Linked DNA regions of Homo sapiens: regions 1, 2 and 3 are each reported to be linked to region 4. The links are microRNA targets in miRTarBase. Many come from high-throughput screens and were not tested one by one. Region 4 holds a microRNA gene; each other region holds the end of a gene's coding sequence.
What was found. The annotated mature microRNA hsa-miR-5002-3p reads UGACUGCCUCACUGACCACUU and lies in region 4 at 4,411-4,431, opposite strand. An mRNA with a match to its seed (bases 2 to 7 or 8) in the 3' UTR can be bound and repressed. Matches are read on the target gene's strand: a 7mer-m8 pairs with bases 2 to 8, a 7mer-A1 pairs with bases 2 to 7 and ends in A, and an 8mer does both.

Region 1: the mRNA of ZBTB5 is a reported target of hsa-miR-5002-3p. Seed matches in the 3' UTR shown: 7mer-A1 at 3,310-3,316, 7mer-A1 at 3,000-3,006 and 7mer-A1 at 1,796-1,802.
Region 2: the mRNA of HES2 is a reported target of hsa-miR-5002-3p. Seed matches in the 3' UTR shown: 7mer-A1 at 5,163-5,169.
Region 3: the mRNA of EREG is a reported target of hsa-miR-5002-3p. Seed matches in the 3' UTR shown: 7mer-A1 at 3,301-3,307.

What each region holds. Positions count from the first base shown.
Region 1 is chr9:37,436,965-37,444,267 of GRCh38, forward strand. ZBTB5 (zinc finger and BTB domain containing 5) reads right to left here. Exons shown (of 2, transcript NM_014872.3): 2 at 1,138-5,591. The coding sequence starts at 5,587. The coding sequence ends at 3,554. GRHPR (glyoxylate and hydroxypyruvate reductase) reads left to right here. Exons shown (of 9, transcript NM_012203.2): 9 at 1-26. Among named protein-coding and RNA genes, the nearest start is that of GRHPR, 18 kb to the left of the region's middle.
Region 2 is chr1:6,413,920-6,421,753 of GRCh38, reverse strand. HES2 (hes family bHLH transcription factor 2) reads left to right here and starts at 1,835. Exons shown (of 4, transcript NM_019089.5): 1 at 1,835-1,978; 2 at 2,052-2,147; 3 at 2,414-2,513; 4 at 2,601-6,522. The coding sequence starts at 1,934. The coding sequence ends at 2,881. RefSeq lists enhancers at 6,896-7,135, 6,660-7,159, 7,160-7,661.
Region 3 is chr4:74,382,004-74,389,837 of GRCh38, reverse strand. EREG (epiregulin) reads right to left here. Exons shown (of 5, transcript NM_001432.3): 4 at 7,044-7,193; 5 at 1,089-5,111. The coding sequence ends at 5,030. Among named protein-coding and RNA genes, the nearest start is that of EREG, 21 kb to the right of the region's middle.
Region 4 is chr3:124,129,585-124,137,418 of GRCh38, reverse strand. It overlaps MIR5002 (microRNA 5002), which reads right to left and starts at 4,490; the gene lies at 4,394-4,490. The region is part of intron 1 of KALRN (kalirin RhoGEF kinase); the gene reads right to left.

The sequences.
Region 1 (7,303 bases), not on the chromosome of region 4:
TTCTATTATTAAATAATTCTCTGAGAGACCGTCTTGGCCTGTAAATGGGGAAGCTAACAAGTGGATATGGCTGGGCATGGTGACGCACCCCTATAGTCCCAGCAACTCAGGAGGCTGAGCGGGAAGGATCCTTTGAGGCCAGTTCAAGGCTGCAGTGTGCTATAACCACTCTTTTTAAATCGCCACTACACTTAACCTGGGCAATGTAGCAAGATACCGTTTCCTGCAGTGTGCTATGATCACTCTTTAAATCACCACTACACTTAACCTGGGCAATGTAGCAAGACACCGTTTCAAAAAAAACTTTAAAAATACAAAGAGCATGTTTCAAAGTCACAGCATCCAATGATCTGCCTGGCTCTGCTTCCCACCCCAGCCCTCAGCCCTGGGCATTTTCCTTATTGGAACGTGTCCAAACCACCTTACCCCTCATCTTCTCTGCCCAGATTCCTTCACTTGTCCCTCACCAAGGACGGGACAAACAGAACCCAGTTGTGACCATGGCACTTGAATCTTGATACCTAGACCATCAGGAAAATTAAGGAGCACTTCCAGAAAAGGAGTTAACTGGAAGAAATGAGAACTAGGTAAGGACGTAACTCTTATTTTGGTCAGAACGATTAGAGGTAGGTGGGTTTAATTTTAAAATTAGTTTCAGCACCTACACATATTGTTCCCTTTGCCCATTCTGTCCCCCCAGCCCCTCCCTGCCCCCAGGTGGATTTTTTTTTTTTTTAATCACCACCTTACCCACTTCTCTCCAAGGTCAGGCCACAGCACTGCCATTGCCAATGCCTTGCTCTGTGCTCAAGGAATCAGCTTCCAGCTCTTCCCAGCAGCCAAGCCAAACTGGCAGATGGAGTTTCCAACTTGGGAGGCAGGTCCAGGGAGCAGCACAAGATTACGCAGGCCCTCAGAGAGCAACTGGGTAGACTGAAAAGCAAAATCTCATGCATGTGCGTAGCTCAAAGACAGAAAAGGCGGGGGAAGGCAGAAGGGAATGATTTGAGAGGAACGACCAATTAACTGTTAATAGAAGGTTTGGTTTAAAACAAAGTACTAGTCAAAGAAGGGCTGGCAAAGAGATATTACCCTCTTTGGTTTCAACCTTAATAACGTAAAGAAAAAGAACACATATTTAGAGGCATGAATATGACAAATTTTTTATTTCAAAAATCTCAAGTTGTAACCAGCATAGCACCACTGACATGGATGCCTTGATAGAACTCCTTGATAGAACTTTATGATCTGTTCACCAGAAAAGATTCTACATGATCACGCCAGACTATAATTAAGGCTAACCAATCAAAATTCAGGTACCCAAAACCAGTTATAATCCAGGTAGAAACTACAGATCATAGGAACCCTGGGACTGGTTTTCCAGGGAACCCTGGAATTATTTTTTAAGTGCTACAGCATGTACAAGGACACTGGCCCACAAGCTTGCTTCTCACACGTAGAAACTGACAGACTAAGAGGTAGATGAGAGATTCCAGGTTCCATCTAGCAGTGGAGAGGCAGGGCTCCAGCATGTATCAGAGATAAGCCCCAAAAGCAAAGTCCACTTATGCTTCAGCAGAGGTAAGCGGGCAGGCTCCTGGCACCACCTCCTCCAAATGGAAGGGAAGGAGGGCTGCACCGCTCTGCCTGTGTCACTGGCTCCTCTCCCTGGGTCCAGGCAGGGCCTCTCATTTTCTCCAGGCTAACCCACTGTGTCCCAAGGTTAATCTCACAAGACACTGGTCCCTACATCATGTAAAGGGTGGATGGGGAGCCTCCTAACACCATGTCAACATGACTGCTAACAAGGAGCCACACACACAACTGAATTTCACAGGACCTCATATCCTCCAATGGGCTCTTTCCCACATCTACTCGAAAGGAATCGTGGGTTTCCCTTTGGGCTTTTCTTCCTGGGAATCAGTCCATGGGAGATGCCAAGCGCCCCTGGAACATGAAATTATCCACACATGTGTAACTGCACACTCTAGATTAACAGGAGAGAAAACACGCTCATTTTTGTTTCCAGCTACACATACTTAGCTTTCTAAACACAAAAACTGAATAATTTATCTGATTTATGAATGATGGTTTGGTATGTCTAAGAAAGCTATATAAAACATAAAATGAACTCATGTTCATGCATGAATTAAACTGACTTCATGAGTTCTAGGGAGACGCATTAACCTGTGCTGTTCCCCTGGACGCACACTTGGCCTCATACAGGTGCCACTAACAGCCCTGATGGCAGTGTCAGAGGACAGCAAGGTGAGGCTGGGGAAGTGAGGCTGTAGGGCCCAGAGAGGCCCTAGTGCCTCCAACAGTCTCAGATGCTACTTGATTACTTCTATGCTATGGGCTGCTAACTCTTACATAGCCTAGAAAATATTTACCCATGAACACTACCATGTTTGGATTTCAAACAACTTTAAACATTTGGTATCAGATTGGGGGAGCAACAAATAATAAAATTTAGGGTCTGTACTGTTAAAAGTATAGTATATAACAGTAATAAAACCTGTGTGGGGCATTTTTGGTTAATCTGTCGTCGAAAACGGTAATCTAAACCTGGGAGAGTTGCTATATGGGGAGGGGAGAGTGAAGAAATGGAGAACAGGCTTGTCCTCGGGTAGGATGTGTCAGCCTAGACTGGCCCTCAACATCTGGACGGAGCAACAGGTAAATGTGCCATGGAAGACCCCACAAAACATGACTCCACATCAGCAGAACAAAGACAAACACAAGTCTTTTCTGACTTCCTAACATGGAACTGTAACATCTGTAATACAAGTTGGTTAAAATACTGCTCAAACAGCACATAGGGAAACAATACCTTGTCACTCTCTACAAGTACACACTCCATTTACAATTTGGTTTTTAAACCAGAAAAAACTGTTAAAACATCTATCCAACAGTGATGTATTCAAAAGTATATACATCTAATAGTCCAAGAGAATGCTCACTCTGGACCCAGTGTCAGCACCAAAGTGCAGTGTTTATGACTGCAAATCAGGTAAAAATAAAAAATACAGTACTTTGAGGCCTAGGACTAGCTCATGATACACTTTAAAGCATTTGTGGCAGACAGGTGTGTCCTCAAAGGCCTTCCTTTAAGACAGGCACCAAATCACCACTGGTTACACATAAGTGCATTTTGCATCACTATACAGGGATATAATACTCCCATCAGAAGGTATAGGAAATTTAAATGCTACACAGTTTTACAAAAATTGCTAAAAAATTTTTTTTGCACTTCAATTTTTAAATTTTTAAATGTGCCACTTTTAATATCAATTACAAACTACTTTCTGACTGCATTACTCAACCCCAAGGAAGCACCTGGTTTCAGGGATTGCATCCCTTTCCCAAGACGTGCACTTCACTCAGAAATGCAGCAGCACAAATACTACATGTTAGTTCTCCGGTTATTAGTTGCTAAACTGTTTAAGAGCCACTGGGCAGCTGGAAGCCTCGAACCCAAAGGCATTAACTGCTTACCAAAAGAAATTCAGTCTGACAACTGGCCTCAGCGTTGTCTTGTAAGGACAAACAGCTAGAGCAAAGTGCTGGGAAGATTGCTGCTCTGCCAGCGCAGGCAGGTAGTCTTTGAGTGCTTATACAGGTGGCTGGACTGACTAAACCTCTTGCCACACTTCAGGCAGGCGTAAGGCTTTTCACCTGTGTGAACACGGATGTGCTTCTTGCAATCTGTCAAAGTCAGAAAAGTTTTGCAGCAGATTTTGCAGGCATACTTGCGAGCTCCCTCTACAACCAAAACATTGTGCTCTGATAAGGCCTTCTTGCACTTTGACAGAACATCTGCAGATGCCCTGGTCAACTGTGGAGGGCCAGGCTGGGAAGGATGGCCATTTTCAAATGAGGACGTAGCTCCATTCATCATTAGCTGAGAACTGGTAGAGTTTTCTGGGATCTGTGAGCTCCTGACGGAAGTTACAACTGGCATTTTGGGAGCTATGCGGCGGTAGTAAGGAAAGTTACTGGCTCCTCCCCTTGGGGAACCTATCATTACCCTGGAGAAGGAGGAGTGGAGGCCCAAACCAGACCTGGAAAAGTCCATCCCAAACTGTTCTCCTCCTTGGTAGCCTGAAGTCTGCACACACGGCAGGCCCATCACCTCCTGCATAGGCCTGACGAAGTGGGAGTCTGCAGGTTCACTAAATGGGTTCTCTACATGGGAGCCAGGGGCAGAGGAGGGCCCACCTGCAGGCCCAGCCTCTGGACTCAACAAATAGGGGGCCTCACTCTCCAGCCTGCAGTCACTAGTGGTGTTTGGAATATTATCATCATTGTTCTGATTTGCAGTAAAGTTATTTCCTCTGCTCTTGTTAAGAAAATTCGAAATACTAAAAGTGGACTTATGCTCTAGGTTATTTGTGACTTCCAAAATATGGATATCACCTACCCTGTCTGTGCTAGACTGGGGATCTGAAAAACTCCGATCACTGCTTTCAGGGCTGAGGTCTATCTTCTCGGCACTGACCACAACTCCTTCCACTTCCACAGACTCGCTGCCTTCTGCTTGTGAGGTCACATCGCTCACTTCATCCTGAGGCTCAGGTGAGCTCAGGGGCTCAGATTTAACCACCACTCTCATGTGCTCCTTCTCACCAAGGCCAACCTCAGGGTTTTCACACTGAAAACTACTTTTCTCAGGTGCAGCTTCCTGATCAAAACTAGTCTCAACCTGAGTTGCACGAGAGGCCATGGACAACTGTGCCATGTTGCCAGCACTGTTATCAGACTGGCTGGGCACCTGGGCATCTTCTTGAGTGCCAAAAGACTGATCAAACATGATCGCACTATCTTCCTGGTTATCAGTCATTCCATCAGCTTTAGGATTATCCACAATTTTCAGAGAATCTGGTGAAAAGAACTCCTCCCGAGAATGAACCCCTGAAGGCCCATTCTCCGGTGTAACATCTGAAATGGCAGACTCATCTATGGAGGGTCGGAGGCGCTGCCTGGCCCGCTCCTCTGCAGACTGCTTGCGCTTATGAAGGCGTCTCATGGGGAAGGGCGTGCGCTGATCCAGGTTACTGCGCATGGAAGAGCTCATGGGGGCTGGCTGCTCCTCGCCATTCTGGCTGGAATTGAGGGCTGAGCTCACGATGCTTAGTCCCAGCTGCTGTAGCATAAAGGAGCGCTGCATGCGGGCGCTCTGCTCCTGAACGCGCTCACTGGGGGGAGACATGGGCAGCGTCCTTGTCGTTAAGTAATGTTTACATGCCTTAACAACAGAGTTCAAATGCAGGTGAGAGGCTGCCAATAAGACATCCATTACATTGCTCTCCCCCAGCATGAGGGTGGAGGTATACATCATGTCAATCAGTGCAGCAAAGGCCTCTGCTGTCACCACCTCGCTATCCAGCTGGATCATGTTCATGGTCTGATCTCCTTCTGCCACTGAGAACAGGGCTCGGAAATGCGTGCTGCATGCTGCCAGCACGGAGCGGTGGGCTTTAAAGTGTCTATTCCCCACTACAATGACACAATCACAGAGCTGGCCATGAAGTCTCTGGTAGTTCAGCTGCTGGAAGATTTGTTCAAAGTGACCAGGAAAATCCATGATCCTACAGAAAAACAAAGAAAGAAAATGTTAAGACCTAGAAAAGCTTCAAAGTCAGAACACAAAGGGTATGATGAAAAGAGTGGAATGGATGGCCAAGCTTGGACCTTTGAAGCCCGTGATATCTCTGATAATGGGCACATACACTAAGAGCTTGTCATATAAGAAGCAAATGGCAATTCAGCCATCAGCCCAGGAGGCATGCACACATGTGGGCCTAGCTACCGACAGGCTCCCCTTTACTCTTCATATGAGCCATGTATAACACTAAGGGTCTAAATTAGTAAAGACCAGTGTGTGAGTGATGGCATATCTATCCCACAGAAGTTTGTTAGAATTCTGCATTCCCTAAGGATGAGGAATGAATACCAAGAAATTCCAAAGTCTTAGGAACCCTAAATAAGTGAAAAGGGCAAATCAATATTAGTGTGGAAGATTTCCAGTTATAGATGGTAGCAGATTGCACACACGCATTTGCCCCGTGCTTTTTCCTGAAACCCCACTAAAATGACACGAAGCCCGGCATGGAGGCTCATGCCTGTAATCCCAGCACTTTGGGAGGCTGAGACGGGCAGATCACCTGAGGTCAGGAGTTCAAGACGAGCCTGACCAACATGATGAAACCCTGTCTCTACTAAAAATACAAAAAATTAGCCAGGCATGGTGGTGCATGCTTGTAATCCCAGGTACTCGGGAGGCTGAGGAGGCGGAGGTTGCAGTGAGCTGAGATCACACCACTGCACTCCCAGCCTGGGCGACAGAGTGAGACTTCATCTCAAAGGAAAAAAAAAAAAAACACTAAAGTTTTTGTTTAAACTTTAAAGGTGTAAACCCACAAGGAAAAAGAGAATGAGAAGGCCTTCAATAGCATTTTGGAAGCTGGGGAGAGGTAAATGAGTGCTAACTGACTCAGCACACCCCAAAAGCGAAAATCCTAAACTGGGCAGCGGATAAAACAACCTAACATATATAAATCTCATTCCCAAAGGCCAAGGAACTGGTTGCCCTTGCCAGGGGAAATGGAATGAAGGTGTGGCTAAGGCAGGAGGCCTGGCTGAAAATCTATCCAATTAAAAAAAACAAAAACAAAAAAACACCAGGATGTGGTGGCGCATGCCTGTAATCCTATAGCACTTTTGGAGGCTGAGGTGGGAGGATTGCCTGAGCTTAGGAGTTTGAGACAAGCCTGGGCAACAAGGTGAAACCCTGTCTCTACCAAAAATACAAAAAATTAGCCGGGCATGCTGGTATGTGCCTTCAGCTACTCAGGAGGCTGAAGGGGGAGGATCACTTGAGCCTGGGAGGCAGAGGCTGCAGTGAGCAGAGATCGCACTGCTGCACTCCAACCTGGGTGACAGAGTGAAACCTGTCTCAAAAAAAAATTAGCCGAGCATGGTGGCGTGCACCTGTGGTCCCAGCTACTTGGGAGGCTGAGGTGGGAGGATCACTTGAGCCTGGGAAGTCAAGGCTTCTGTGAACTGTCACTGGGCCACTGCACTCCAGCCTAAGCAACAGAGCAAGGCCCTGTCTCAGAAAATAAAATAAAAATAAGTGAATGAATAAGAGAAGGAATTAATCAGGTCCAATATCTTGACTACAGAAAGAGAAAAGGAAGAATACAGAGGGTGAAAATGATGTAAGAAATGGTTTTTTGTTTTGTTTTTGAGACAGAGTTTCGCTCTGTTCCCCCAGGCTGGAGTACAGTGGCGCAATGTC
Region 2 (7,834 bases), not on the chromosome of region 4:
TCTGATTCCAGACCACTCCTTCCAAGTAACCAGCAAAACCTGAAAATCCTTGAGTTGAAGAGAACTGTGGGTTACTTGGTTAAAGTCCTTTACCCAATGGGAGAGTAGAGGAAGAAATATTTTTAACTGGGGGTAACTGGCAATGGAAATGGTGTTTGCTCCCCTGCCATTCAGTCTTCAAATGGTGGTCCGCAAACCTGGAGGGGGATGTTCTAAGGGGAGCCTCCTCCTTCAGCCTTTTTCTCCCAGGAGCTAGGGTCAGTCCCTCCCCAAGATGCAGATGCTGCAGGCGGACTTGTGGGTGCAGACCTGAGTCAGCCAAGCTAAGTCGCTTGGCCTGGGGATGAGAGGGAAAAGATCCACAGAGTTTTTTGAGCTCTTAAAGAACAATTAATTGTCTTAGGGGAGGCCTATGGAGTCAAACTGGCCTCAACCACGGAGAACAAGGTCTCAGGTTCCTCCAAGCCCTGCTGGGCCAAATCTGTTGAAGGATTTATTCTTACTTGTTAGGTCTTTTATGAGGGTTAATGCAGGTTAGCGAGCCTTAAAGCGTTAAGCCCTGAGCTTGGCACACAGTAAGTGTCCATGAAAGGTGGCCTACATTCCTTCCCATGCCACAGATAGGTATGGGTGGCCTGGGCTCCCCTGGCCCAGGCTTCTCCGGGCCCCTCAGTGTGTTCGCTGGCCTTCTTCCACCCTGCGGCGAGAACCCTGAAGGAGGGAGACGTGGGGCTAGCGGCAGGGGTGGAGCTCGGAAGTGGGGTTCGGGGGACAGGGGGTTCATCCAACACCCTGGACAGAGCCCTCCTTGGCCCCGCCCCATAGGGGAACTCCTCCTGGCTGGCTCTGTGGATCCCTCCAGTCATCTCTCTGCCCGGCAGTTCGCAGTGTGGTTCGCGGGCGTGGCCGTTGCCCCGCCAGCCGGTCGGGGGAGGGGAGCCCGGAGCAGATGGGCGGGGGACGCCAGCCAGTTTGCCGCAGCAACGGCCACGCGGCGCGAAGGCGGTCCTGGGCGGGCCACTGGGGCCCGCACCCAAAACTGTCCTGCCCGCGCGTCACATGAGCCCTGACTGTCTTGCGGGCGAGAACCCGGACCCCTAGCCGGTGGGAATGAAAACGAGCTCCGAGGGCTCCAGGGCTGCCTCTGCTTCTCTAGGATTCCGTTTCCCCACCCAAAGCCTGGAGTGGGGTAACCAAAAGACTCTTAACTAGGCAAGCCGCCGAAGGGTTCTACGGGCTCCTTAGAGCCGGGCGTCCAGCGACTGGGGCCCTTGTCCAGGCTCGGCCTGTTCCCAGCGTCGAGGACTGGAGCAAGTCACGACCTTTCTCCGGAACTCGGATTTCCCGTCCAGCTCAGCCCTTCACCCGATAAAGCAGCTGGGGGTGCAAGTCCCTCCCGCTGCTGTCCCTCATGGGAGCTCCCGTAACCGCTGGGTCCCCTGCTGCGGCCCAGGGCGGGGCTCAGAGAAGACGCTGAACCCGAGCCTGGGGAATGAATGAAGGGCAGCATTGGAGAGGAGGGACCGTAGCTCCAGTCAGGCAAGGCCTGGCCCCACCTGGCCCTCCTGCCCTCGGGGTCACGCAGCGAAGGCCCCCGATGGCGCCTTTACCACTCTCCCGCAGGTGCTCGGGGAAAACTGGGGGCCGCCACCCCGCGGTAGACAGGACGCAAAGGCGGGGAGCGGGATCCCCGGGGGCGTCGCGGTCTCCCCTCCCGGCTCCACCCTGCGCAGGAACAAAGGCAGGAGGTGGGACCAGCGGGCGGCCGGACTCCGCGGGGCGGGGCGGGGCGGGCGAGCCGCTCCCTTAAAGCTCGGCCGCGGGCGGGGCGCGCACTCGTCTGGCACCAGCCCGGGCCGCGCCCGGGACCTCATTTCGGACCTCGGTTTCCCTTTGCGTGGGGCTCGCAGCTGCCACCGCTTCCCCGCGGAGCATGGGGCTGCCTCGCCGGGCAGGGGACGCGGCGGAGCTGCGCAAGGTGGGTACCGGGGACTGGGGGCGGGGCTGGGGACTCCGGGGACCCGTCTAACCACCGCGCCGCCCGTCCGCAGAGCCTGAAGCCGCTGCTGGAGAAGCGCCGGCGCGCGCGCATCAACCAGAGCCTGAGCCAGCTTAAGGGGCTCATCCTGCCGCTGCTGGGCCGGGAGGTGAGCGCGCCCGGGCGGAGGGCAGAGGGTCCTGGGGCGCGGAGCGGGGGCAGGGGGACGGGGTGCTCCTGCGGGAGGAACCCACCAGGGGGTTCCGCGCGGCGCCCGAGGCGGAGCCTGGGTGGGGTGGGCGCGTCGGAGCGGACCCCCAGCAGGCCACGGCGCGCCCCACACCCAGCTCCCGACTAGAGCGAGGGTGCGCACGGTAGCCGGCCAAAGTTCTGTCTTGGTGGTTCTCTGTCGCTCTTCCTCGTGGCCGGGCGCAGAACTCCAACTGCTCGAAGCTAGAGAAGGCAGACGTCCTGGAAATGACCGTGCGCTTCCTGCAGGAGCTGCCTGCGTCCTCATGGCCCACGGCAGCGCCCCGTGAGTGAGCCCTCCCTGCCCTGCCGCGCGCTCTGCACCCCGCACCCGGCACCCTACCCCGCGCCTCACGCGGCTCTCCGCCCGCAGTGCCTTGCGACAGCTACCGCGAGGGCTACAGCGCCTGTGTGGCGCGCCTGGCCCGCGTGCTGCCCGCCTGCCGTGTCCTGGAGCCCGCCGTGAGCGCGCGCCTGCTGGAGCACCTGTGGCGGAGAGCGGCCAGCGCCACCCTGGACGGCGGGCGCGCTGGGGATTCCAGTGGCCCGTCTGCCCCCGCCCCAGCGCCCGCGTCTGCCCCAGAGCCCGCATCCGCTCCGGTGCCCTCGCCGCCCTCGCCTCCCTGCGGCCCTGGCCTCTGGCGGCCGTGGTAGCCCCTCGGCCGATCCACAGACCCTGCCGACTGCTTGGGACCTTGGGGCACTGGACAGGTTGAAGCTCTTGGTGGCGGCTGCTGTTCCCATCATTAGGGGCCAGCCCAGTACCCACACCCAGGCCGGAAGCCGGCTGTTTGTGACTGGCGTGGCAGACTGAAAGCCCTGGGGCTGGGGCTCGGCTCAGGGAATAAAAGGAGCGTCCCTGCTTCACCCCCAACTTGGCTGGAGAAGAAAGGACAAGAGGCAGCAGGGTGAAGAAGAAGCCCCCCATCCCAGCTGGTGGAGATAGTTCTGGAACTGGACCCCGCAGCTGCGTGGGCAGCCGACACACCCACCCCAGCACTGGCACCAGACCAGAGCCAGAGCCAGGACCTGGGCAAAGTGCAGCCGTGCACCCTGCCTGGTCACTGCTCTCCCAGCCCTGCCTGGGCCTACCTCCTGCCCAGCTCTGCTTGGGACCCTCTGGGCATGCAGCAGCAGTAGCCTAAGGGCTCTGGTCACTTCCAGGGCTCTACAGGGCAGCAGAGCAGAGCAAAAGGGTGCATATGCTGGGAGCTGTCACCTCCACTCCTAGGCTTTTCTGCCTAGAGCAGAATTATAGGGGCAGTATACATCCAGGGGTCTGTGCGGTGGGGCTGGGGGATTCCTTAAGTGACTTTGGGAAGGATTTGTTTTCCCGAGCATCAATTTCACACCTGGGCATTGCACCCCAGGCTATGCAGTCTTTCAGTGTGAGGAAGGGGCAGAACAAGAATGAGGCGGCCCCGTGGCCTCAAGGAAGCTTGTGGCTTTGGAGGATCTGACTCCAGCAGAGTCTGTGCCAATGTGGGGTGAGCAGGGCCCCTGCCATGGAGCAGCAGGAATTTGAGGGATGGAGCAGGTTAAAGAATGGGAAACATCTTCACTTGTTTTTTTTTCTTGCAAACTACTCCCTGCTACTCATTGAGACTGGTTACTGGAAGCAACTTGTTAAGATTTTTCTTTCTGGGCGGGCGCGGTGGCTCACGCCTGTAATCCCAGCACTTTGGGAGGCCAAGGCGGGTGGATCACCTGAGGTCAGGAGTTCGAGACCAGCTTAGCCAATATGGTGAAACCCCGTCTCTACTAAAAATACAAAAATTAGCCGGGTGTGGTGGCATGTGCCAGCTACTCGGGAGGCTGAGGCAAGAGAATCACTTGAACCTCGGAGGCTGAAGTTGCAGTGAGCCAAGATTGAGCCATTGCTCTCCAGCCTGGGTGACACAGCAAGACTCTGTCTCAAAAAAAATTTTTTATTTCTTTCTTTTCCATGGAGGCCTAGAGTCCCTGTGAAGGCTAGGAAGGGGCTGCTGATCCCAGGAGTGCCCACGAGGAGTGGGGGGCACTGTTGGCCCATAATCAGGCAAACACCCATCATTTCATGGGGGATTCATGAAATCATAGTCAGGCAAACACCCGTCATTTCATGGCTAAGCATTTGCAGAAGGTGGAGGATTCTCCCCCGAGTCCCCAAATCAGCAGCCTGTGCTAGGGACCAGAGCACCGGGGGCAAGAAGACAGAACCAATGTGGGAGTGGGGATGGTCACTAAATCTGACTGTGCCACACAAGCCCATGATGACCTTGGCACTGGTTTGGGTGGCAGGATATGAAGGAAGCTGTAGGCATTATTGAAAAAATCATTGTTCAGCCAACAGGGTGAGGCTCCCAGCAAGGCCGTGCCATCTTCCCACCTCCCTGTGCCCAGAGGGTTAGACTGTAAGCTCCCGGAGGGCGAGGCTGGGGCTGAGCGTGCCTCCACGTCCCCAAGGCACAGGGTGCACAGTGGGTGCTCACTGAATATAGTGGACTAGTGAGCAGAGGATGAGAGGACTACCCTGTAATGAGCCTTGGACAGTCTGGCATTTGCCTTAACTCCCACTCCCATGCCCTGGGATCACTGTTGGATATTTACTCCATGAGGACAAATACTGGGGAGGTGTGGAGAGGAGGGAGGGCAGGTTCCTCTTACTTTCACCCATTGCTGAGAATGAGCGCCTGTTGGCACTGCCTTTGTGAGCCTCCGGGAGCAGGTAACCTGCGGCCCAAGCCCGCCTAGGACTCCACATCAGGCAGGCACAGGACTGGCCCCTTGTCCTCATAAAAACTCTCAGTACAGCTTAAACTCTGTAAGATCTAACCAGCCAGGAGGACCCTCGCTTCCTCTCCGCCATGCTTGCCACCTCTTGCTTCTGAGAGTCCATCTCAGTTCGCAGTTCTGTGACTTGCATTGACCTGGCTCCAATCAAGCTACAACTCAAGCAGTCACGGGGAGAAGGATTGTAGATGGGCCAGTGACTCACAGGGTCAGGCACTCGGGGGAGCCTGAGTCAGGAGGTCAGTGGGCCCTGGAAGGGAGGGGGCAAGCCTGGGTGGGTAAGGTTCTGGGCCCCAGGCAAGAAGGCAGAGTTTCTCCGCAGGGGTGTGTGCAAGAGCTAGCTGCGCAGAAGGTCTCCGCTGGCTCTCCAAGCCGGGCTTGTGAAATAGGAACGCCAACATCCTCCTCCACAGGCAGTGGCAGGCACCTCCTCCTCAGGTGCCCCCCAAGCCCTATCTGATGGGCAAAGGTGAACGCAGGGCGGTGGGCTTTTCCTGTGCAGAGGGAGACTGATTCAAAGGGTCATTTATGACCTTTCACAAGTCCCACATCCTGCCCAATGGCCAGGTCTTGGGATGCTGTTGCAAGATGGTTCTGTGACTCCATGTGACTGTCTGATGATTGCCCCAGCTGGGGAAAAGGCTCCCATGTCTCTTTCTCATAAAACCAGTGGGCAAGGCCGGGCGCAGTGGCTCACGTCTGTAATGCCAGCACTTCGGGAGACCAAGGTGGGCGGATCACCTGAGGTCAGGAGTTCAAGACCAGCCTGACCAACATGGTGAAACCCCGTCTCTACAAAAATATGGAAATTAGCTGGGCATGACGGCGGGTGCCTGTAACCCCAGCTACTTGGGAGGCTGAGGAGGGATAATCAGTTGAACCCAGGAGGTGGAGGTTGCAGTGAGCCGAGATCGCGCCACTGCACTCCAGCCTGGGTGACAGAGCAAGACTCCATCTCAAAAACAAACAAACAAAAAACTAGCGGGTGAAATGATTCAGTGACCTAAGGACAGCCAGAGCACTAAGCTGCTGGGAACCCATCTGTGCTGAAATGTAGATTTCCCAGGAAACTCAGGCTTGGGACAGGCGCCTACCTGCTCCTCGGGCACCAGGTGATTAGGAGAGGTCGAATCTCATTTCCACGTGAGTGAGGATAAAGACTGGGCTGCCAAGGAGGACTCCTCATAAACATTGACAAATTGCTCTGCCCCGCCTGTGATCCCAGACGACTCCTGCAGTCTGGGATCCTGAGTGTCCTGTGGGTTCATCTCGGATGGGCGCTGCATAAACAGCCTGCAGGGAACGTCTGGGAGAACCAGCTTCACAACAGATATAATAAGGAAGAAGTTTGAAATATTGCAAGAATTGCGAAAGTGTGACACACAGATACAAAGTGGGCACATGCTCGTGGGAAAATGTTGCCAATAGACTTGCTTGACTCTGGAGTTACCCCGAACCTTCAATTTGTTTAAAAAAAAAAAAAGGCAATATCTTGACGTGCAATAAAGTGAACTGCAATAAAATGGGGTGTGCCTGTACTTGTTTTGAGACAGGGTCTTGCTCTGTCTGGAGTGTAGTGGTGCAATAATGGCTCACTACAGCCTTGAGTTCCTGGGCTCAAGCCGTCCTCCCACCTCAGCCTCCTGACTAGCTGGGACTACAGGCGCACGCTGCCACGCCCGGCTAATTTTTTTATTTTTTGTAGAGATGCCCTGAGGTCTTGCTACATTGCCCATGCTGGTCTTGAACTCCTGGGCTCAAGCGATCCTCCCCCACTTCAGCCTCCTAAAATGCTGGAATTACAGGTATGAGCCACCTCGCCCAGCCTGCCTGTACTTTAAAAAAAAATTCCAGGTTTCTAAAGCCATTGTAGAGAGGAGCTAACCCAGCCAATGATGTTGTTTCTGCTAGCTTAACTTCTTGTCTGAGCCTCCTTCGAGTGTGGATGGATCTCTGGGGGCTGAGTGGGAGTGCCTGCGTGTGTGTAGGTGTGCATGTGCGTGTGTTTGTGTGTCCCTGTGTAACCGTGTGGCTGTGGCTGCCCTTCAGAGAGCTGCCCGGGCATGCAGTATCAGGGAGAAGGCAGCCACACACCGAGGCTTCCCAGTGAGTAACTAGTTTCACCTGGGGTTTTCAAAGGCTCTGATGAAGCCCCGGGCGCTTAAAGCAGCTGTAAGGCTCAATAATGGTTTCAGGATCGTGAGAACGGATCTAGAGAACACGCCCCACACACGTGGTGTCTTGTTACCCGAGGTCCATTGGGGGGCAGCAGGGAGCAGGGGCTCGGCAGCTGGTCCAGGACCAGGCGCAGGAATGAGGGGTTCCCTGTCCTGGGGGTGAGGCCTGAAGGAAGAAGATTCCAGGCTGAATACGTGTCCACCGCTGGTTCTGTCGTGGAGGGGGAACCAGAGAGCCCCACATCTTGGTGTTCGTTATGTTAGGATTTTTCACGAACCTCAGGCAGCACAGGACAATGTTAAAGAAGAATGAACCAGGCTGGGCGTGGCAGCTCACGCCTGTAATCCCAGCACTTCGGGAGACTGAGGTGGGTGGATCACGAGGTCAGGAGTTTGAGCCCAGCCTGGCCAATATGGTGAAACCCCATCTCTACTAAAAATACAAAAATTAGCTGGGCGTGGTGGTGCGCGCCTGTAGTCTCAGCTGCTCGGGAGGCTGAGACAGGAGAATCGCTTGAACCCAGGAGGCAGAGGTTGCAGTGAGCTGAGATTATGCCACTGCACTCCAGCCTGGGTGACAGAGCAAGACTCTGTCTCAAAACAAAACAAAACAAAACAAAACAAAACACGAACCTTTGTAGACCTCAAAAATCAGAGG
Region 3 (7,834 bases), not on the chromosome of region 4:
TCTATTTTACAAGAATTTCTATTTCTCCCAAGAAAACTCTAAACTAGATCTGAGACTAACTCCTTATAATCTTCCTCTGCCTCTGACATGGCCCGAACATCAGTGGAATTAGGAGTGAGAAGACCTGAATTCTCATGACACCTCCACCTATTGCCAGTGGTGTGACCCAGGACAATTGCTTAACCTCCCTGTCAAAGGGTTGAAGCCATAGGTCCCTTCCCCAGCTGCAAGCTAATGAAGGATCCAAGGAGCTAAGGAATGGAGCAAGTACTCTGTAGGCTGCTGAATAAGTATACCAAGGAAGCCATCCATCACTGTGATGAAGGGTGGGAAGAATCAAGCTTGTCTGCTCTAAAGGCTCAGGGGAGCCAAGCCTCTTTGCAGAGGCTGAGAGAATCATAAGGCACCATTCTGGCTGATGAATCTTTTCAAATGCTACTTCCCAATAGGATATCTATTCTTTTTAGAAATACTCTTTTAAAATACTCTTTAAAATATTATTTTAAAAAATACTAACCCCAGGCTGGGCATGGTGGCTCATGCCTGTAATCCCAGCACTTTGGGAGGCGGAGGCGGGAAGATCACAAGGTCATGAGTTTGAGACCAGTCTGGCCAACATGGTGAAACCCTGTCTCTACTAAAAATACAAAAATTAGCCGGGCATGGTGGCACGTGACTGTAGTCCTAGCTACCCGGGAGGCTGAGGCAGGAGAATCGCTTGAACCCAGGAGGCGGAGGTTGTGGTGAGCCGAGATCGTGCCGCTGCATTCCTGCCTGGGCAATAGAGTGAGACTCCATCTCAAAATCAATCAATCAATCAATCAATCAATCAATCCTAACTCCTAGGATTTTTAAATACCAACACCTAGAATTTTATAACTAATGTGGCTCCTTCTATTACAAGAAATTCTTCACTATGCTGGCTATAAAACGTGATACATTTATAGAATGTTTTCCCAAATTAACACCATTGAGTCATTATGTCTACACACATTATATCCCTGTCACTGCTTTTAAACCCTTTAATGTATTGTGGGGAAAAAATTGCAAAAGAAAAAAAAAGAATGAGGCTGCATTGTCAGTGAAGATTTTGAATGCAAGATGTTCAATGCATTTTTATTTATTTCAATTTTTTTCAATTCCCAAGAAAAATAAATAAAAATTAATAATATCTTGTAAATTATCTATTTTCTCCTTCAATATCTTAAGGTACACAATTATCAAAGCTGATATTGAACACAAACAAATTGATACAATTCAGTAATCCGATAACATTCATAGTCAAATAAGTTACTTCAAATTGCATGCAATACAACTTTATGTTCCATAGCATCTTTAATAAAAACCGTTTACCAAAATGGCTCTTCAAACTTAAAAAGTGCAATTACAGAGTGCAAAATAAAAAGAAAATACATTATATTACATTTAACATCATCAAATTTGAATAACAGATATTTAAATGAAATTACTCTTTTTAAAAACATTAAAATATACACCAGAAATACTGTTTGTACAAGTCATTACTCCCCCTTCTCCCATATGAACAAGAATTTTTTAACGGTCAGAATATATTGGGCATCAAATTAAAAACTTTTTTTTCAAAAGTCTACAGAATGGATATTGGAGCAAAAATTACAAAGTGGGTCAGATACAGGTTTTTAAAAACTGCATTACTGAATTTAACAAAAGTCAGACACTAGAATCATATATTTGCTGCATAAAAGTTGATTTGATACCTGGTGGTGATTGAATTTAGTCTCAAAGACTCATAAATAAAAATCTGACTTAAGACGTAGTCATACCAGTATACCAATTCTCCCATCACTTTGACTTTCGGCAGAGAGATTAGAGCAAAAAATATTCAGGAGAACAGTGGAGTTACATTGTATTATGTATGTTTAATATAATATCAATTTTAAGGTTAAGGTTAAGGAAATCTTAATTTTAAGGTTAAACCTTGAGTACTAGTTATAGAACTTAATATTCCTGGTTAAAGAGTAAGTTAACTGGGTTATTATGTGGCCTTGGTTGAAGACCATAAATTATGCATTTATGCATTTGTGGTTGCTTTGGTTCTCAATACATTGAATATGCATAGCCCCTTCTAGAAATATATATAGTGAGAAATCTGTAAAATGGGGGAGTTAGACTAAGTGTGAACTAAAATCTTCCCACTGTGTACAGGACACATCAGCTGAGAGCAAATCAGTTTTTATGTTTACTCAGCACCATCCTCACTAAAACTATTATTTTTGTCTTATTTTCACCCATAAAAAGTAATGTGGGTCATACTTTATTATTTAATATGCATTTACAAAGATCTAACTATTTTAGGGATTAGCTTTTTTAAGCATTCTTAAAGATGAAAAATACAAAAATGACTTGTTTTTATGAATTGACATGCTTAAGATAAACTGACAAACCAAGATTGAGATGCTTACAATAAATCTTTTGTAAATGAAATAAATGGATTGCAGCTGATTTATTGAAAAGTCAATAGATTTTTTTGAAACAGCCAAGATCACTGAAAATATTCAGACTCTCCTCACATCTAGTAAGCGTTAATAAATACAGTTGTACCTTGGTATCCACAGGGGACTGATTCCCAGATCGCCCCCCTGCACATACTAAAATCGGGCACAGATGTTCAAGTCACTTATATAAAAGGGCATAGTGCTTGCATATAACCTATTCACATCCTCCTGTATACTTAAATCATCTTTACATTACTTGTAATACCTAATGTAAATGCTACGTGCGGTGGCTCACACCTGTAATCCCAGCAGTTTGGGAGGCTGTGGAGGGTGGATCTCAAGGTTAGGAGATTGAGACCATCCTGGCCAACATGGTGAAACCCCGCCTCTACTAAAAATACAAAAATTAGCTGGGCATGGTGGCATGCGCCTGTAGTCCCAGCTGCTCAGGAGGCTGAGGCAGGAGGATCTCTTGAACCCGGGAGGTGAGGTTGCAGTGAGCCGAGATCGTGCCACTGCACTCCAACCTGGGCAACAGAGCGAGACTCCATCTCAAAAAGAAAAAAAAAAAAGTAAATAGTTGTTATAATGTATTTTTTGTTGTTGTTGTATTATTTTTTAAGCATTTTCCGTCCTTGGTTGGTTGAATCCACAGATGTGGAACTAACCACAGAGGGCCAACTGTAAGTAGAGTATTTAAAATGTGTTCTTACATATTTTGACTTCAGCTGTATTAAATAGGAAACAGAAATAACTGTTTAGATCTAATTGATTTTTCTTTTCTCTTGTTTTTAAGTTTTATATAAATGGTTAGCAGAGCACCAAATGACTGCAATTCTATGATCCATTAAGGTCATGTATACATACATGTTTGTATATGAATATATATACAATATGTATATGACCATATATATTTACTTGTTTTTGTCTGTTTATTTTCCTAATAGTAAGGGCCAGGGCCAGGACTTTAGATGACAGTCGTGTGATTGCACCAGGGTATATAATGCATGGATACACATGGAGACAAGTCCTGGCACCTGGTGCTCCAGAGGTCAGCCATGGCTTATTATGCCTTCGTTTACCCTAGCACATGCCAGGATAAACGTAGAGGAAGAACAGATCCTCCCTGACCTGGTATGTGATCCAGGGAGACTCTACTCAAAGGTTTAGCATTCGATGAAGGAGCCTCCCATAAAATCCAAAAGTGGTGGCAGCAGTGGCTCCTTATGCAATAGCCCAAAAATACTCCTATTAACTCTCTGAGACCTATGGGCTCAGAGTGCAGAAGAAATCTTTGTCTCTTCCAAAAAATAAACAAATGTCAGGAAAATGAGCCCTAGTTTTCATCTCAGCCTCCACAGGAAGGTGTGTTTAAGTTTCTACATTTTAAAAGCTTTCAATTGAGATTTTTCATTTGGAAAAATACACCATATTAATTTTTAAGTTTTTTCCCATTTCCTGTGTCAAGATACAACTTTAAATACATAACTTTACATTCTAGAAGAAGCCATTTACTGAGCTGTATTAAAGTTAAAACTTCCTTGAATAAAAGATGAAATAACTGTATTTCCATCTTAAGACAACATGTAGAATTATTGTCTTCATATATTTTAAAATAATAATTAGTCCATCAAATTTTGGGCTGTGATTTAATGTTAGAATTCAGCAAAGCCCCTATAAAAAGAAATAGTCTAAAAATATTCTTAAAAAGCACAAATTTAGGCTTCAAGTGTGGACTTTTTTCTAATTGTCTGTTGAGCAATAATTACCTCACATAAATGTTGTAATATACAAAAAAGGAACATTGTGAAGCTATGAAATGCCCACTACTTAAATAAAAGATTACAGAAAATTGTTTTTCAATTCATTTTACATAGGCAGAATCTGGTAGATGAGTGACTAGTACCTGTAGGAGTCGTGAGTTGGCATAGGGAACTGTCCACTGCCCCTCATATAACAGAATTATAGCTGAGACCTGAGTGAAGAGACCATAGACTCCCCAGGGTTAGCTTGTTTCAAATGTGTAGTGTTTAACACAGGACCTATATTTGCTTCTCCCAAATTCTAATTGCATTATTGTTTTAATATATGATACCATGGTGCCAACTACATATCAAACCATGGTACAGTCAAACCAATTATCACTGATTTGAGGAACATAAAAAACATACTTACTAAATCGATTTGACTATATATATAGGCTTACAGAAATCTGTCATTTGCTAACAATTCTTGAGCTATGACCTGGGAATTGCTTACTTCTAAGCACTGTGCACCAGGCATATAAACTTTGAAGCTTTCAATGAAGCATTTAGCTCAGGAAATTACTTGTATAAAAATATCAATTTTCTTTTGATATTAAATATTTTCTGCACATTATACATTAGCAAATAGTCTGTCAAAAATAAAACAAAAATAAAAACATTTTTCAAGTACATTAAAATACAGTGTTATTGACCTAACACTTGACCCAACATAAATATTATTAATAAAATGGGAATATTAATATTAACCAGGCACACTGTTATCCCTGCCCATAAGTTTGATGGCGCCATTCAGACTTGCGGCAACTCTGGATCCCCTGAGGTAACTCTCTCATATTCCTTCTTTGGTTCTTTACTTTTTCGATTTCTGTACCTGGAAATATTCACAAACGAAACTGTTAGCACTGCAGTTAATAGCAAAGGAACAAGTGTGTTATATATGGACTCCAAAGGCACATTAGCATAGTGTTTCCAAAATGACAAAGTTGAACAGATTTAGGTTGGACAATGTTAAAAAAAAAAAAAAAAAGAGGGATGAAGAGGTGATGTGCTGTAGTCAAACAATTTTGGAATGAAATGATAAAATACACTTAAAGAGTTTCTCAAAGTCTTTAACGTGATCATGAATATTGTGAAATTCCAAGAGGCGTGTGGCCACATTTAAGTCTGAATTTTAGGTTTTCTTTTTCTGTCTCTCTTTCTTTTTCCTTCCTCCCTTCTAAGGAATGAATATTTACAAATCATGCTACATTAATACACTCTTTCCATCACATTGATATAATGCTATCACTAATCAAAATAAAAATAATATTTATCAGGCACTAATTTGGTGACCTACAATTTTCTAAGTGCTATACATGCATTATTTATTTTACTCTCACATTTGCTGTTACCATCCTCATCTTACAGATGAAGAAAGTGAAATACAAATGGGTTGTATATAATGTGCCCAAGGTCCAAGGTCTCATAGCTAGGATTCATAGATTTATCATAATTTAGAATCTTCTTTCATTTATTCATTAAGCTATTTTCCTAATATTTTTGAGTTTATTTTGTCCCTATTTTGGAAATAAGACATGTAGCTTTGAGGAAACCACATCATGTCTATGTTTACTGTAAGAATATGAATTAGAAAGAATTTGTTCTTCACTCTGGCATTTGTCAACTATATGAGCTGGGATATTTGAATGAACCTCTCTAAACCTCAGTGCCCCATCTATAAAGGAAAGGATTGTGGTCAAAGATTTGCAGGCATATTTCAGTTTTAATAATATTTAGTTCTGTCATGGCAACTTATTAGGAAGGCATTATTATTTGATGGATACTTAGAATCAAATGTGGACAAAATAAATTTAATATTATGAAAGTAGCACACTTTCAGACCTTCAAAATTGGAAGTGCACTACTTTCACAGAAAAATAAAAACGTAAATTCACCTTGAGTAATTTGTAACTGTTTCAAAATATGTTTCATGGAGACATTTTAAAGGGAACTGTTATTAATTAATTCACACTGTTCCCATCCTTTGCTCCTAACCCTTAAAAAAATGCCAAACTATACTTTCAATGTTCACTTTCTATTTTTCTGTTTTCAGCTTGTGACAATAATGCACATGAGGATGAGGTACGACTGTTTTGGGGGACTGACACAAACTATTTTTTAACAACCATTTTTTATAATTGTCTAGAAATAGTTCCACCAGTCTGCCTTAAACTGTAAGATAACCCAAGCTTCTAAGGTTATTAATTTACAAGGTTGTTTTTTATAAAATAAAAAATGTGACTTGAGGAATTAAATTCAGGTGGTTAACTATAACAGTAGCACCTATCCTATGATTTACTTTCACATGAAATATCATATTACATACTAAAAGCAACCACCCTATAACTAATGTAAGATAATAATTTCTGTCCATATTTGATAAAGAAGGGAATTGATACTCTCAATTTGACTTATGTAAGGTCACATAGGTAATAAGTATCAGAGCTGATAATAAAGTTCAATCCAGATGTTCTGCAGCAAAAACATATTTTTAAAAAATAATTTCAAGTTATTTCAGATTCGGGGGTACACATGCAGGTTTCTTAACAGGATATATTGTATGATGCTGAGATTAGGGGTACAGCTGATCCCATCACTCAGGTGTTGGGCATAATACTTAATAGTTTCTCAACTCTTGTAAATATCATTTGTACAGGTTTGATCTTATCTCTCTAATACTTTATCCATATTTTTACCCAGTTTATAGGTCTGCATTATGTAAAAGTAATTTGTAAAAGCAGAGTATAAAACCACACTGACTTACCATCTGCAGAAATAATATGTGGAACCGACGACTGTGATAAGAAACAAAATAATAAGAATCACGGTCAAAGCCACATATTCTTTGCTTAAAGGTTGGTGGACGGTTAAAAAGAAGTGTTCACATCGGACACCAGTATAACCCACTTCACACCTGAAGGAAAATACGGAAGAAAGAAAGATCAGTTACTTAAAAAGGAAATCATGGTTATGAATTAGTTTTATAAGGACTAACATCACACTGTAATGCAAGAAATCAACAAAATTTGCTAAAGATTGTAAAGAGGATTTCAAAGATTGAGTTAGACCAGTAATGATAAAAGGGCTCCACGTAGCTCTTGGACTAAATTGTAGTATTAAAATGACGGTTGTGTTCAGCTGTCATGGTGGCTGACAGTCCACAGTGGTGTTTTGTAAGTTGTACAGGTTTGAGATTCCTTTTGTCTAAATCAGTGGAATCAATTCTTTTTTTGTTTGTTTGTCTGTTTGGTTTTTTTGAGATGGAGTCTCGTTCTGTCGCCCAGGCTGGATAGCAGTGGTGTGATCTCTCGGCTCACTGCAACCTCCGCCTCCCAGGTTCAAGCAATTCTCCTATCTCAGCCTCCTGAGTAGACTACAGTCTTGCGCCACCACGCCTCGCTAATTTTTGTATTTTTAGTAGAGGCGGGGTTTCACCATGTTGGCCAGGCTGGTCAGGAACTCCTGACCTCAAGTGGTCTGCCCGCCTCAGCCTCCCAAAGTGCTGGGGTTACAGGGTTGAGCCACTGCGCCTGGCCTGGAATCAATTCTTTTTTT
Region 4 (7,834 bases):
CCATTGACACAGCACATCTCACACTCACTCATCCTGCCAGGACCAGCAGGCTCACAGCCTTCCCAGCCACACAGCCAACTGGACTCTTCTCCCCACTCTTATGGACTTGCCACCTGCAACAATCACTTAACACTTACCTCACTCTGCTTTTTCTCATTAACCAGTTTTTGGCAGCCCTACAGCATCTAGAACAGTGTTGTACACGTAAGTAAATATTTGTTTTGAGGTTTCATTTTTTAAATGCATTGTTCAGCAAAACCGGCGACTCCAGTGTCCAGGTAACAAGCACGTCCCTCCAGAATGAGAATCCAGACTCCCCATGTCCTCTGCTATATTCATCAGCATAGCCTCTTCCTCCTCTCCCAAACACACCATTCCTGCTGTGGCCTCAAACATTCTTTCCAGGTGCCCAAACTCTCACAGCTGCTCTGCCCCATCAACCCTGTTCCCTAATCATCCGGGTCTGCTCAGGGCCTCGCTCCCCACCTCTGGCATCACTCCGCCCTGTTTCCATCACTAGTGCCTCCATAATTTCCTGTAGTGCGAAAACAAGAAGTAACTTTAAAGAGCAGTGTCACCAGCTTTGTAACAAACACTCTGGTACATGCACATCCATGACCATCTTTTCCCAGGTCACACTCTGCACTAGGAATCTGTGTCCTGGATTAGGATTCTAGGATCTTCTGGCTGCCTCAAACCTCTACCCAAAATTTCTGGGCCTTTAACAGCCACTAGGTTTCCTGGCAAGAAACTGGTTATTGTTTCTCCCTGTGAGGAGACCCTAAAGGCCAACAAACTCTACTCTCCTCCCAGAGGTTAAGTAGACAGGCAGGCCCACCTCACTCTACCACCCAGGCTCCCCTAGAGCCAGCCTATTTGCTACCTGGTAGGCCAGTATTCAAATCCTGATTCCAATCAATGGGGGGGGGACCTTGGCAATTTGGTAAAATTCAGTCAGCATGTAATGAACAAGTGCCTCCTCTCGTTCTAAAGGATCAGGGGCTCTCATAGCAAGGTCCCCAGACCAGCAGCATCAGCATCACCTGGGAACTTGTGAGAAGTATAAATTCTTGGGCCCACTGTAGACCTGCTGAATCAGAAACGCTGAAGGTAGGGCAAACAACTTGTGTTTTAACAAGTCCTCCAGATTATTCTGATGTGTGCTCAAGTTTGAGTTCCACTGACTTAGGCCCTGGGGATATAAAAAAAAAAATGAAAAACCCATAATCTAAACTATCAGTTCTTAGCCCTGGCTGCAATTAAAATAAGCTGGGGAGCTTTTAAAATAATACCAGTCTGGGCCCCATCCCAGACCAATTTCATTAGAATTTCTAGGTGTGGGGAAGTCATCACAATGCAATATACTGAGTGCAAAGACTGTAACAGGGTATGCAGGCAAGTGAGAAGGGATCCTGCAGTAAGGAGATGAGGACAAGCAGCTGCACCATCTGTGCCTCCATTTTCTCATCTGTAGAATGGGGAATGTAACAGTCCCTTGAAGGACTATTGAGAATTACATAAAATGATATAAGGAAATGCCCAGTATATAGCAGATGCCCAGTGTTCATCACTTCCCTTCTTTCTCCAGAATGGGCCCCTGGTTGACTCTGAGTTGAGCAGCTGGGCTGCTGTGTTTAGAATGTCCCCTACACTGGTCCCTCATCAAGGACCCTTCCCCACCAAGAAAGAAAACTTCATGACTGTTCATAGTTTGGGGCAAGAGTTCTCTTCAGCAGCCATCTCCATAATCCCAGCATCTTGATTCGCTGTCCTTAAAAACAGGCTGGGTCCCTTGGAACCAGACTTTCCCTATAAGACAGCTCACAGTGCAGACCCCAGACCTCTAACACCCCCACACCCTTTCAAAGAACACCTATTTTTTAAATTTTATTTTCCATAAGTTATCGGGGTACAGGTGGTATTTGGTTACATGTGTAAGTTCTTTAGTGGTGATTTGTGAGATCCTGGTGCACCCATCACCCAAGCAGTACACCCTGCACCATATCTATAATCTTTTATCCCTTGCCCCCCTCCCACTCTTCCCCACAAGCCTCCAAAGTCCACTGTATCATTCTTATGCCTTTGTGTCCTCATAGCTTAGCTCCCACATATCAGTGAGAACACACGATGCTTGGTTTTCCACTCCTGAGTTACTTCACTTAGAATAATAGTCTCCAATCTCATCCAGGTCATTGCAAATGCTGTTAATTCATTCCTTTTTAGGGCTGAGTAGTATTCCATCATATGTATATACCACATTTTCTTTATCCACTCATTGATTGATGGGCATTTGGGTTGGTTCCACAATTTTGCAATTGTGAACTGTGCTGCTATAACCATGCGTGTGCAAGTATCTTTTTCAAGTAATGACTTCTTTTCCTCTGGGTAGATACCCAGTAGTGGCATTGCTGGATCAAATGGTGGTTCCACTTTTAGTTCCTTAAGGAATCTCCACACTATTTTCCACAGTGGCTGTACTAGTTTACATTCACACCAGCAGTGTAGAAGTGTTCCCTGATCACCGCATCCACGCCAATGTCTACTGTTTTTTTGTTTTCTTATTATGGCCATTCTTGCAGGAGTAAGGTGGTATTGCACTATGGTTTTGATTTGCATTTCCCTGATCATTAGTGATGTTGAGCATTTTTTCATATGTTTGTCGGCCATTTGTGTATCTTCTTTTGAGAATCGTCTATTCATGTCCTTAACCCACTTTTTGATGTAATTGTTTGTTTTTTTCTTACTGATTTGTCTGAGTCCGTTGTAGATTCTGGATATTAGTCCTTTGTCAAATGTATAAATTGTGAAGATTTTCTCCCACTCAGTGGGTTGTCTGTTTACTCTGCTGACTGTTCCTTTTGCCATGCAAAAGCTCTTTAGTTTAATTAGGTCCCAGATATTTATCTTTGTTTTTATTGCATTTGCTTTTGGGTTTTCGGCTATGAAATCCTTGCCTAAGCCAATGTCTAGAAGGGTTTTTCAAATGCTGTCTTCTAGAATTTTTATAGTTTCAGGTCTTAAGTCTTTAATCCACCTTGAGTTGATTTTTGTATAAGGTGAGAGATGAGGATCCAGTTTCATTCTTCTACATGTGGGTAGTCAATTATACCAGCACCATTTGTTGAAAAGGGTGTCCTTTCCCTACTTTATGTTTTTGTTTGCTTTGTCAAAGATCAGTTGGTTGTAAGTATTTGGGTTTATTTCTGGGTTCTCTATTCTGTTCCATTGGTCTATGTGCCTATTTTTATGCCAGTATCACGCTGTTTTGGTGACTATAGCCTTATAGTATAGTTTGAAATCAGGTAGTGTGATACCTCCAGATTTAATCTTTTTGCTTAGTCTTGCTTTGGCTCCATGGGCTCTCTTTTTGGTTCCAAATGAATTTTAGAATTGATTTTTCTAACTGTGTGAGGAACGATGGTGGTATTTTGATGGGGATTGCATTGAATTTGTAGCTTGCTTTTGGCAGTATGGTCATTTTCACAATATTGATTCTACCCATCCATGAGCATGGGATGTGTTTCCATTTGTTTGTGTCATCTATGATTTCTTTCAGCAGTCAAAGAACACCTCTTTAAAGCAACTTGATAAAGGCCATTTTAGTTATACTAGGAACATGTTGTCCTATTCCGGCTGCCCTGAAACTCTTTTTGCCTGTGGTTCCAGGCAAGCAGACAGGCTCAGGATGAGATCTCTGGACTCAGGTAGCCCTCCCTGATGCAGGATTTGTCAGTATCCAAACTCCTTCTCCAGGAACATGTGAACGATAGGGGACTTGGCAATAGCCCCAGATTCCTCTAGCGCCTCCCTCCCCATAAGGCACAGGAGTGGGTCTGCAATCACAGGCAGTGCCCTGGGTGGGCCCTCCACAATGCCACAGATCCTGACCTGTGGCCTCCTGAATTGAAGACAGAAATGAGGGCTGTCCTTGTTAGCTACCTCCGGGGCTCTGTGCTTATTCTAGCAGACACTAAACATTTTTGAACTTCTGAAAACAGCCTCGACTGTCGTTCTAAATTTAAAAACAAGCAAACTGTTTCATTACTTAATAGACAAACCTTGTGTTGTGTTTTTTTGAGGTGGGGGAGAGAGGAAGGTTGTTGTTTTGTTTTTTAAACTAAAATACTGTCACCCAGCTTGCCCAGATTTGATTCCCTCTTCCCCAGATTTTCCCGAATGGAGTTGGGCTGTTTCCAAAAACCAAATTAGTATTCAAAAACAGTTCTGAAGTTTTAATCACCACTAAGGATATATTTTTTTTAATTTTTAAATTTAAAAAATAAAAAGTAACCCCGCACCATCAGATCAATTGGCTGTTCCCAGAATGCAGATCCACAGTTGGAACACAGGCAGCATCCCTGGCATGAGCTGCCTCAAGGCCGTGCTGTGAGGAGAGTAACCCTCATCTGGAAGTGGTCAGTGAGGCAGTCAGTCATGCTATCACCTACTAAGTGCCTCAGAAACCAAATTCCAGAGGACAGAGAGGAAGATGGATTTGACTTCAGAGAAAACAGTGTAAATGCCCCAGCAGGAGGAACCAGAACAACTCCCAAAGAGACAGGGGCTGCCAGGGGAGAATTTGTGTCTTCAGAGGTTAAGGTCTGGTCTAGTTCCCTGCCTCTGACCCACAAAGCTCTCATGAAAGAACTTGGAATGTGAGACGGGGCAAAAATCCCTGCCAAAACAGCCATGAAGGAGCCAGAAAAATGAAGGTGCCACAAAGCTTTTCCCCAATTCTCTGAGTTACAAGGCCCTGGTTCCTTCCCAGACACAACAAAGTCACCTTCTCCTGGCCTCATCATCCTCCTCTTCCTTCCCCAAGTCCTGCCGTGTGTAAAAGAAGATCTCTGCCCAGGCTGACCAGAGGAGAGTAAGGTATTTTCTTCCTGGCTTTGCACATTCATTCAGCCTTGAAAAGCTCAGGCCAGGAAAGAAGTCCAGGAGTATGTGTTGTGCGGTGCTGCAGTGCTCACTTCCCAGTGATGGAGGCTCCCTCTCACTAAGTTTCTTCTCCTCCCATCAGTGTTCTCACCGGCTCGGGTTCTAGGCTCTGGGCACTTGAAGTGATGATTGAGCTTCCCTCACAAACCTTAGGAAAATGTGGCCCCAAACTAAGCATTACTAATGCACAGCTTTGCTCATCAAGACATGTCCACCTGGGGCTCCAACAGGGTAGAGGAGGCTGGAGGGATAGGAAAGTGGTTGTGTAATTCAGGCAGCACCCAGTCATCAGCACTAATGATGGAAAGAGATACTGGGTTGTTGAAATGATGGATAATCAATATTCCAGAATAATGGATATTGTTTGTTAGGAGACAACATGATTCTTGGCAGCTGAGTTGTCTTCTTAAAGATCTACTTGTAAAAAACAGCCACATGAAAAGAAGACTGTTCCAGATTTAAAACTGACCATATAATACACATACGGAAAAAAAGTGAGAACTGGCTATGTGGGGAAGACATGGAGGAAGTTAGAGCTCAGAGGGACTTATGACATCATTTCCCCCATTTTACAGAGGAGGAACTAAGGTCCAGGGAAGCGAACAGATTGCCTTGTGTCACATAATTATTTGGTGGAAAAGCCAGAAATGGGCCTGGGTTGTCTAAACAGGGCACTGTTCACTTGGCCACAGTAGTCCAAGGGCTTCACCTGGAAAAGAACCATCATTCTAAGCATGTGATGCTGACCTCCCGGCAGTGGCTGCTTCTGTAATCACCACAATTTCCCAACACACAAGTCACCTCATGTGTTCCTACACCCTGATGTCACAGCTGCCACTGAGAGCCCTGAGCCAAGTACCATGATGATTCATAAATCACTGCCCAATTCTTTAAAGTCACAGCATTGTCTTTGTCAACAGCACCTTATGTGATTCTAATCAGTAGCTGCCATCAATTTCATCAAGTTCAAGTACAATCTTACTTCTTAGTATTTGGGTGGCCCTTTTAATGTTTTTCAAAAACTCCTTGATAGCTTATACCTCACTTTATGTTCACCAGACCCCATGGGTCAAAGGTAGAGGAGTGACTGGAAGGTCTATTTCATATACTCCTTGAAGAACTGACCTGTAAGTAAACACAGTTGGTAACTGGGGCTGAGAGACTATAGCAGAGGACTCCTGAGTCACAGACTCCAGTTCTTTCCAGAGCAAGTTGGAAGCAGGAAAAATATGCTAAAATTCACAAGAAGTTTCAGGGGCAAGAACCTTAAGAATATTATCTGTTAACCTTCAGACATATAGAAGACACTGGGGTCTGTGGCAAATTACTCAGCATCACACTTCAGCAATCTCTCTTCCTTTTCTTTGCTTTTTCATTAAAGCATAACTTGCACAAAGTATACAAATCATAAGGGTACAGCTGGGTGAATTTCTGCATATGTTATACACTAATATAATCACCAGACCAAGATTTAGAACATTTACAGCTACCCAGAAGGCTCCCTCATGCCCCCTTCCAGTCAAGAATAGCTATTATTCTGACCTCTGTCCCACACATTAGGTTTGTTTGGTCATATAAGTGGGAGAATACAATATGTATTCTCTTATGTCTGGCTTCCTTTCGCAATCTTCTAAGATGCTTCTATACTATTAGAGTGCCAATAGTGCGCTCTTTATCTTTTCTGTATAACATTCTGTGGCGTTGATATACAATGTATTTATCCATTCTACTGTTGTTGGAAACAACATTTTGGTTGTTTCCAGTTTGAGGCTGTTATGAATAAAGCTGATATGAACATTCTTGTACATGCTTTTGTTTTTGTTTTTAGATGGAGTTCAAATCTATTGGGTATATCCAGGTGTAGAATTATGGGTTCATGGGGTGTGCATAATAGATATCATGAAAATTCTCTTTAAAGTGCTGTATAAATATACACTCCCACCAGCAAAGTAAGTTCCAGGAACTCCATAGTCTCAACAAAACTTGATATTATTGGTAAATAGTCATTTTTAAAGTATCACTGGAAAAGACGGTACCCCATGTATGTTTCCAGATAACTGATGTTAGTCTTTAAGCAGTTTTTAAAAAAAATCTAATAATTTTACTTCTTGAAAATAGTAAACTACCTAACCATTGCAGACTACACTGAGAAGTTCAGAGAGCTCTGAATATACATTTAACATATTCAGAGATATACTAAATATCTAAGGATTTCACTCTCTCCTCCTTCATGGGTAGATATCACTAAGGTATCAGCAGCCCAGAGCACCTCCCTCTAATCTCTGTCCTGGAAAATATTAAAGACGGCCCAATCAGGAACTTTAATTTATACACTACCATAGGTCAATAAGTTCTGGTCACATGGGCTTTCCACTAGAAAGGCTATTTCTATGTCCTGAATGGTAAAAGTTGTCCCCAAAATAGGTAAGTGAGTTGTTATTCATTTCACTTGCTTTTATGTGGCTTGGCAAATGTTAATCAGTTATCAAACAATACACATTTATAAAGCACATATTCTGTTACCGAGCTAGACATTCTGGAAGTTCCTTGAAGGGGCAGGGCTCCAGAACACATCACATGGAATGTTGTCATCTGCCTTCTTTTTCTCACTTTACCCATCCAACCCCTTTCACAGATGAAATGAGGTTAAAACAAACTTCACTGATGACCTTGGCTTTAGAGGGGAAAGCAAGGCCCAAAAGAGGTTTCCTGGGGAATGAAAACAGAAGAAGGGAGAACAGCCCTGCCCATAGGGCCATGGTGATAGAGTGAATGGGTGATTGAAGGCGACGTGATTATTACAACCTCTGGTCTTCTTTACAACAGAAGACCAAGCTCTATCTTATCCTTTATCCAACCTCCACCCATCATGAACTTCCTTCTCCCTTGCCTC